Homo sapiens: one gene and its partner. The protein of the gene in region 1 purifies or fractionates together with the protein of each later gene. This does not show direct contact. Each region holds a gene or a part of one and is shown on either strand. Other genes may lie near its edges.

Evidence for each region.
Region 2: the proteins of ALOX5AP (region 1) and FRA10AC1 purify together in Homo sapiens (affinity purification with mass spectrometry; one large-scale study listed by BioGRID and IntAct). This does not show direct contact.

The regions. Positions count from the first base shown.
Region 1 is NC_000013.11:30,733,945-30,738,507, forward strand, and holds the start of ALOX5AP (arachidonate 5-lipoxygenase-activating protein), read left to right. Parts: upstream 1-1,598; 5' UTR 1,599-1,606; coding exon of another isoform or gene 1,607-1,661; coding exon 1,662-1,731; intron 1,732-4,563. UniProt on the Homo sapiens protein: Required for leukotriene biosynthesis by ALOX5 (5-lipoxygenase). Anchors ALOX5 to the membrane. Binds arachidonic acid, and could play an essential role in the transfer of arachidonic acid to ALOX5.
Region 2 is NC_000010.11:93,678,312-93,682,128, reverse strand, and holds part of FRA10AC1 (protein FRA10AC1), read left to right. Parts: intron 1-530; coding exon 531-649; intron 650-3,817. UniProt on the Homo sapiens protein: May be involved in pre-mRNA splicing.

The DNA of each region.
Region 1 (4,563 bases):
TTGCACCATTGCCCTCCTTGATGCTCAGGCCTTTGAATGCAGACTGGTCTCCACCAGCAGCTTTTCTGAGTCTCCAGCTTGCAGATGGCAAACCATGAAACTTCATGGTGTCCATGAGCATGTGAACCAATTTCTATTATAAATCTGCAATATATATATATGAGGAGACTTATTTATATATTGGTTCAGTTTCTCTGGAGAGCCTTGGCTAATATAAAGTCTATACTCTACAAAGTGCCCTAGGTACTCAGGGAGTACCCAAGTGTGTCATGACCAGCCCGACAGCCCTGGCTGCTGGCTTCCCCGCACACAACTCTGCACGCTGCCTTCATCAGCCTTTCTCTCTCAGCTGAACCGAGGGCATTGAAGCGGGCCTCTGGCACTGTACCTATGAGGGAGCAATATCTTCCCCTACACTGACCTCTTCCGTGCCGAGATGCAGCCCTCCCTGCTGCCACTAGTTACAGTGGTCCATGTTCCCTTTCAAAGTGAAGTTTTGATAAAAGCACCTCTTAACCAATGCCAAATAGCTAAGTCTGGGACAAAGATTGCAGGTATTTTGCATTTTCCATGTAACCTCAGAGGGATTGCCATTCACACTGATCTGAGCTGCAGAATACCAGGCAGCCACCTCACCCACCCAGCAGGTCCACTCTTATACTTTCTCAGAAAGCACAGCCACTCTACTCTTATTCAGTTGAAAAGAATTTCCAGGAAGGTGTTTCTGCGATTGCCTCAGAAAAGTCAGTTCCCTTTGGGAATTTCCCTTAGGGATCATCTGTAACTCCATTTCTGCCTTTTACCTGAATTCTTTGGTTTGGTTTGAATTCTTTGGTTTAATTTATGAATTCCCTTTATTACTTTTCTCTGAAGAAATGGAGATATCAGCTGTCCCTCCCCACTGCCATTTATTCCTTCCTTCATTCAAACCTTATGTGGCTGCTACTTACCGTGTGTTAAGTGTTCACTTTTTTTCTTGGAATTCAAAAAAAGAAGGACAGTATTTGGGGCACAGATCTTTTGGTGTTCTATACATTTTTTTAAAGTTTCATTTTACATTTGTGTGTGCGTGTGTGTGTGTGTGTGAGACAGTCTTGCTCTGTTGCCCAGGCTGGAGTGCAGTGGCATAATCATTGGCTCACTGTAGCCTCAAAGTCCTGGGCCCAAGCAATCTTCCCACCTCAGCCACCCAAAATGCTGGGGTTACAGGTTTATGCCACTCTGTCTGACCTGAAAGTTTTGGGTTTACTTTCCCTTCTTTCTCTTTGCTGAAGTCAGAGATGATGGCAGCTTCCAGATTCTCTGGTGCCTGTGCTGGGCTCGTGCTGGTCATGGTCTTGGGTCCAGGATTCATTCTGGAGACTCTCAGGGAAGTTTCCCATGACAAGGAAATGTAGGAGAGTGTGCTGGCTTTGCGTGCTCCTCTGCCAAGCCCTGCTTCTCCTGGTGGGACACACTGAACCACAGCCAGGGCATTTTGGTGGTTAGTTAAAAAAAAAAAAAAAAAAAAAAAAAGGAAGAAGAAGGCACTGTGTAATTGTGCCGGGGATCTTCAGAAATTGTAATGATGAAAGAGTGCAAGCTCTCACTTCCCCTTCCTGTACAGGGCAGGTTGTGCAGCTGGAGGCAGAGCAGTCCTCTCTGGGGAGCCTGAAGCAAACATGGATCAAGAAACTGTAGGCAATGTTGTCCTGTTGGCCATCGTCACCCTCATCAGCGTGGTCCAGAATGGTAAGGAAAGCCCTTCACTCAGGGAAGAACAGAAGGGGAGATTTTCTTTGATGGTTGTTTGGAAGTCAGGCTTAAACAATTGTGTCTGTGTGTGCGCATGCACAAACACTTTTACCTTATCTTTATTTTCTTCTTTTTATTTGAATGTATAGGGTTGTGTGTATTTCTGTGTAAATTTGGGGTTTTCCTCCTCTTAGTCTTTCACTTTTGTGGTGATTACCAGTCCCATTTTTAGAGCCAGGGCTGCAACTTGAAGGTTTTGCTAAAACCCTCACCGAAGTGTCTATGATCAGCATTTTAACTATTAATTAATGTGGCCAGGCAAGGGGTGGAAGGTGAGAAGACTAGAAAGGGAACATGATATACACATTTACTCAGATACTGGGCTTTTCTAACATCTGCAGTGCAATTGAAGTTACCAGTCATCTGCAGTCTAAAAAGAAAGTGATTTTGGGAGGTGCGTAGAAAAAATCATCTTATTATTTTTCCTCTATATTACTTTTTTCTTTTTTTCTCCTGAAGAAACTTTTTTTTTTGGTGATACCTTCTTTTTCTCTAGCACGTATAATTTTGGAAGCATTTTTCATATGCAGTGTATACTTCAGAAAGAGAGAGAGAGAGAGGAAAATTGTCCTGTTCAGCGTTTGCATTTCCATTATTCCTGCTATTAGTTAAAAACAACAACAACAACAAAAAACAAGCAGGATACCTAGATCTGGAAAAGGGAGAATTGTGTAGAGCTGTCTTCCTAAAGTTCTGAGTTAGGGCTGCCTCAGACCACTTTCATAACTATCTCCAGTGGCTTTGTGTTTTATATTTATTAAGATAGAGAAAAAAAGAGTAATTACTAAGGGCAGCTGCTGTAGCTTTATGGTGATTACTGAACATTGACATGCTGTCACGTTTTTGGAACTTTGAGTATTTAATCACTTTGGGATATTCTATTTTCCCCCATCTTGAGTGTGGACAGATGCTGGTGATGTAGCCTTCTGGGCACAGAGCAAGCCTCCCCCTCAGCCTCTGCACCAGAAAGGCTCAGCTTCACACACTCCAAGTATGTTTTCTACAAGAACTACACTTTGTGGCTTTCTGACCCAAACATTTTTATACTAAATTACACACAACAAAGTTGTAGCTCAGAGAGGGAACAAATGGCTTATTTAGGCCACCATTTTCTTGAGCCATTATGATTTCACACAGGGCTCCCTTGGCCCTGTAAATTGGCAAGGATTCCATTATTCAACCCGCATACATGTACAGAGACCCTGCTCTGGCCCAGATAGTATTCTGGGTACAGGCGGATAGAGCAGGAAACAAAACAGCTACAGTGATGGACAGGTCAGCCTGCAGCAATGCCTGCAGTCTCTGCAAAGGTAGCTGTATGGGTGGGCAGGTGGCTAGCACTTATTCAGCTCTGGAAGGATCTCCCCTCTGGCCTCTCCCCTGACACCCATCAATAAAACTGAGGAGCATCGGTGGACAGGGGACCTTGTGCCCCCTCCCTGCCTGTGCAGTTGGGGCTGAACCCAGCTACGAAGTTTGAGCTCACTCTCTCCAGCTCCCTCTCAATTCAGAGCTGAACTGTGGGAAGCTTCAGAGCTCTCTGTTTCAAGGACAGGTTCTCCTCACCTCTCCTAATGGAGGTGCACCAGGGAACTGGCCCTGCTCTGCCCAGGGCTTTCTCCTGGACTTTGCCATCATGGTCTAGCAAACCCTGTTCAGATTGAGGTGAGTGGTGAGATTTCGAATTCTTTTTGACAGATAGGATTAAGTCTTCTTCTGTGGGACAAGTGGGAGGTAGAGGTAAGATTAAAGATGGCCAAATGTCTGAGTCCTGACAGCCACAATATGGAGATCTAGACTTTTTACAGACCACAGGGCACAGGGGCCTCACTAACAGAGTTCCCGGAAGTGATGAGTGTGCTGGGGGCTTCCTGGTTGAAGAGACACTAGAATGGACCAGCTGGGAGCTAATTTTTTGGGCTGGAGTGTGATGGCCTGCACATCACTGCCTCTGTCCCTCCATTGTCACAGCTGCCCCTTAGGAGCCAGCTGAGGCAATTTGTGGTCAGAGTGACTTTGCACAGTTGTCCTGCCTGTGTTCAGGAAGGGAGTTTCTGTGGTCCCTTTGAAACCACAGAAGAGCCCCTCGTATAGCTCTCAATGGAGGGGGCAAAACATTCAAATAACTCAGGAGATAACACAACTATTTGTTTTTAACTGTGAGTTTTTAGGCAATCACAAAGATCCAGATGTATGTCCAAGCCTCTCTTTGCAATTCTAATTAACCTCAATGTTGCAACCATAGACCTACCTTACAGAGTTCAAAAAAATATGCAAAAACCCTGCCTTTCTTCTTCCTCATACCCCAAAATGCCATTCTGAACATTTCCTGTTAGTTAAAAAAAGATTTCCATGGTGTTACCAGGCACTGTACACAGTCTGTGTCCCAAGACAAGGAGGTACAGTTCCACATGCGCCCATGACTGGGTTGGGCTCTGCACTCTCTCTATACTTTGAGAGCCTGATTTTCTGTGATTGGGCAGAGCTGGCCCACCTGGTGCAATGTCCTCCTCTGCCTTTCAAACATGTTTTAGTCATCAAGATCTTCAAATTTGTAACCCTTTCCAGCTTGATCCAGCAGAATGCAGATTTGGAAAAACAGAACGAGTTTAAAATACATGATTCTAAGAAACCTGGACCAGAACTATCAAAACTTGGTTTCCCAGAGAATATAGCAAATGGGCTCATTGGCCAATACTATGACATTGGCTTTTGAGAAAAGAAAGGCTTTATTGCAAGGCTGGCCAGCAAGGAGACAGGAGTTGGGCT
Region 2 (3,817 bases), on another chromosome or scaffold:
TATAAGTGGCCTGATGTTGATATATGAATTAACAATAAGCCCTTTCCATTTTCATTCCATTATGCTTCTACTATATTCCTTTATTCTTAAGAGTAGAAATTTCTATTTACTGGTGGCTTAGAGCTGTTCAGCAGTTTCTTCTTCTTTGTGTTTTTTTAACATGTAGGTGGATATGGATTATGTGAAGGGAAATGAGGCTTTTTTTTGTAATTTAGTTTTAAATGGCTAAGTGATAGAATATAGAAAGAAAGAAACAAATACAATTATAATTTGTATTTACTATGGTCGTATACAGAACTTATAGAAAGTAATTATTTGTGTCAGTGTTAAGACTTCATTATCTTATAGAATGATTTTAATTAATATACAAGCATAAAATATTTACAGTCTCACTTAACGTTCCTTATTATATAAATCACATTTAAAAAATAAGTATTTTAACTGATTTTGGTTTTTTGTTCATATGATGGTTATTTTTGAAAAGGTCAGTTGGAAAAGTTAACTTTAATTTTATATTGTTTAACACAAAGGAGAAAAGAAATCAAGTCAAAAAAAAGAAAAGATAAAACCAAAAAAGACTGTGAAGAGTCATCACATAAAAAATCCAGATTATCTTCTGCAGAAGAGGCCTCCAAGAAAAAAGATAAAGGTAAAAGGAAATTAAGATAAGGCATCTACTCACATTTGTGAGCATGAAATATAATCTGCCATATTTCATTCATCTAATTGGTGAATGCATTGAGAATTTCATTTTATGGTAGTTGAGAGGAAACTGGCTGAGAATTTAGATATGAACTTAAAGTGACTTACAGGAGTTTTAAGAACTCCTCTAAATTAATTAAGGGTTAATTTTAGTTCATTTTTGGCAGATAGTATAATATTGCCAACAGTTTTCTAATTCCTGGCTTTGTCACCTACAGACTTGTTACTTTGCATCAGTCACTGAACTGCTTTATTTTTCTTATGTGTATAGGGGTGAGGTGCATACCTGGCCTTCATACTGGTCAAGCTTATTGTGGAAACTCAAATAAGAATGTGAAAGGGACTTTGATCAGTGCCTTTAAACAGTCTATAATCTATAAATCAATATAAAATTGTAACACTGATTTTATTTATAATGGCCTGTGTGACTTTTTTTACTAGTTTATGAGTTTCTAGAAATGAGAAAGATTGTCATATATCTGTGTTCTCAGAGCCTAGCATGGTGCTGTGCACCTATACTTAGAACTGCCTGCTTTTTCTTTAGCAGTCCTTAAGCTCGCTAAGACTCAATTTCTTCATGTGTAAAATGGTCTTGATTCCTTTTAGAATTGTTCAGAAGTTGAAACGAGATAATTCATTAAGCAGTTTGCATAGTACTTGGCACATATTAGCTATTATGAAGGTTACTTCTAGTTGCTTTTTTTAGCCCATAATAAAGTAGAGTCAATCGGCTGTAATTTATAGTGAATCAGACTAATCTAGATAGGTAATTGAATTAGATTCAAGCCAATGTTAATATAATATTTGGACAGGAGAGGGCTCTCTTGCTCCAGCTATGAAGATCATTAGCTATGTTGCATGCTTAGAAGCATTTACTTCTTCTTGCACATGGTAATATATTCATTATGTAGCAGAGTTTAAATCTGTGTGCCCTTGTGATACTGTCTACTCCCATAGCTTCAAGTATATGGTGTCACCAACCTTTAGACTTCGTAAAATTGATAGATGGTGAGAGGAAGATATTGTTATTTTATTGCTTATTGAGAGATGGCATTTGTAGCAGAATGCCTTTTTTGTCTCTATCTTAATTATTTTCCACTCTAAGGTAAATTTTAACCAATAAATGTTAAAAATATGTTTTGAGTTTTAAAAACTTATTTATCCTTATATGCTAGTAAAACATTTAATATGTCACTTAAGAAATTTGTTGCCCTCATTGTATTATATGTTCATTCTTATCACAACTGTGATACCATGTTAATCACTGCGTATTCCAAATGAAAGAACTAGTCTCTACTTTATAAAATGTTACTCAGTACAATCAAAGTAGATCAGGTAGATGAATGCTCAGGTTCAGGGCTAAGGTTGGACCCTTCGTATTATGCGTACATATGCACATGATCTTCCTTATAGACATTTTTCCCTTAGTGTTCTGTCAGTAGATGACACCTATGTTGACCTAAAAACTAATATCAGAAATCTGGGGATTATCCTTGATACTTTCTTTCCCCTTATTATTTATGTTTAATTTGTCACCAAGTCCTGTGAATTTTACCCCCAGAGTATATATTTCTCAAGTTCTCTCCACCCTACTACAAACCACTATATTTTCTCTTATAGGCTACTGTTATATTCTCCTTACGGGTTCCGCCTCTGTCTTGCCATCCCACCTTCCCTCCTCTTAATCCATTCTCCATAAATCAGTGATTTCCTGTTGTTTTTAGGCTGATAAGCAAAATCCTGGACAAAGCTAAAAGGTTCTCTGTGATCCAGAACTTGTGTACTATACAAGGCTTGTTTCTTACCACTCTGTACCTCACGTTCACACTCCCCCCATGTAGCCTTTCAGTTTCTGGAAAATGTCAAGCCTCTTTCAATTTTAGGGGTTACATGGATGCTGTGTCTTCTCTTCCTAAAACTCTCAGTTCTATCCCAGCTCATCCTTCAGGTCTAAGCTCTTAAATGTCATTTCCAAGGATCCTTTCCTGATTTCATCCCCCACCTTGAATCTAAATTAGGACTCTCATTTGTAATGCTGTCATGGCTCCTGACACTTTCCATTATTACACATATGACGATGTAAAAGCCAAAGAGGCAGAGATTCTGCCTGCTTTGTTCATTGCTATATCCCCAGCACCCCACTAGCTCATGTTCAGCATAAATAATAATCAGTAAAGGACTTTGAAGATTCTTCAGGGATAGAAGACCAAAGCAAGGTGGAATTGAGACATCTCTTTCTTATGTATTCTCTATTTAGAATGCCTTTGAAAGCAAAGTCTCTAGAAATATAGCTTTTTTACCCCCAACTTCTATGGTATATAACAGAAAATAACAAAATTTTAGCAAACTTTTAGGAAAACCATGTGGAACTCTTTAATATCTTATCTGGGATCATCTAGAATTAGCTTTATCATTGATTTGATTCTTTCTTGCCAGACCACCTTAATTTGGACCAGACTTGAAGAGTAATTAATAAACGCTTAACATCTCAGCTGCGTTTGGACTGTTGACAACTTCCTTTAATTTTATTTCTATCTTTCTGGCCTCTCTTTAGCTAATGCTTTTTTTTTTTTGTAAGACAGGGTCTTGTTCTGTCACCCAGGCCCCAGGCTGGAGTGCTGGAATACAGTGGCATGATCTTGGCTCACTGCAGCAGGCTTAACCTCGGAGGCCCATGTGATCCTCCTTTCTCAGCCTCCCAGGTAACTGGGACTACAGGCCTGCACTACCATACTCAGCTAATTTTGTTGTTGTTGTTGTTGCAGAGACAGGGTCTTGCTGTTTCCCAGACTGGTCTCAAACTCCTGGCCTCAAGCAATTCTCTCACCTTGGCCCCCCAAAGTGCTGGGATTACCAGCATGAGTCATCACACCCGACCTCCTTAGCTGCTTTTAACTGAAGTTCCTTCTCAGTCTTACATTTAGCTGTTAGAGTTCCTCGGGGCTCTTACCTAGATTTCTCTAGTTTCTCTCTGTACTCCCAGTGTAATCCCATCAACTCTCATAGCTTTAGGTTACCGTCTTAGAAAATGTTAAATAAGTAATAGATGGATGAACTAGATAGCTGAATGAATGGATAGAGAGAAAAAATAAGAAAGATCAGTAGCTGACTTTAA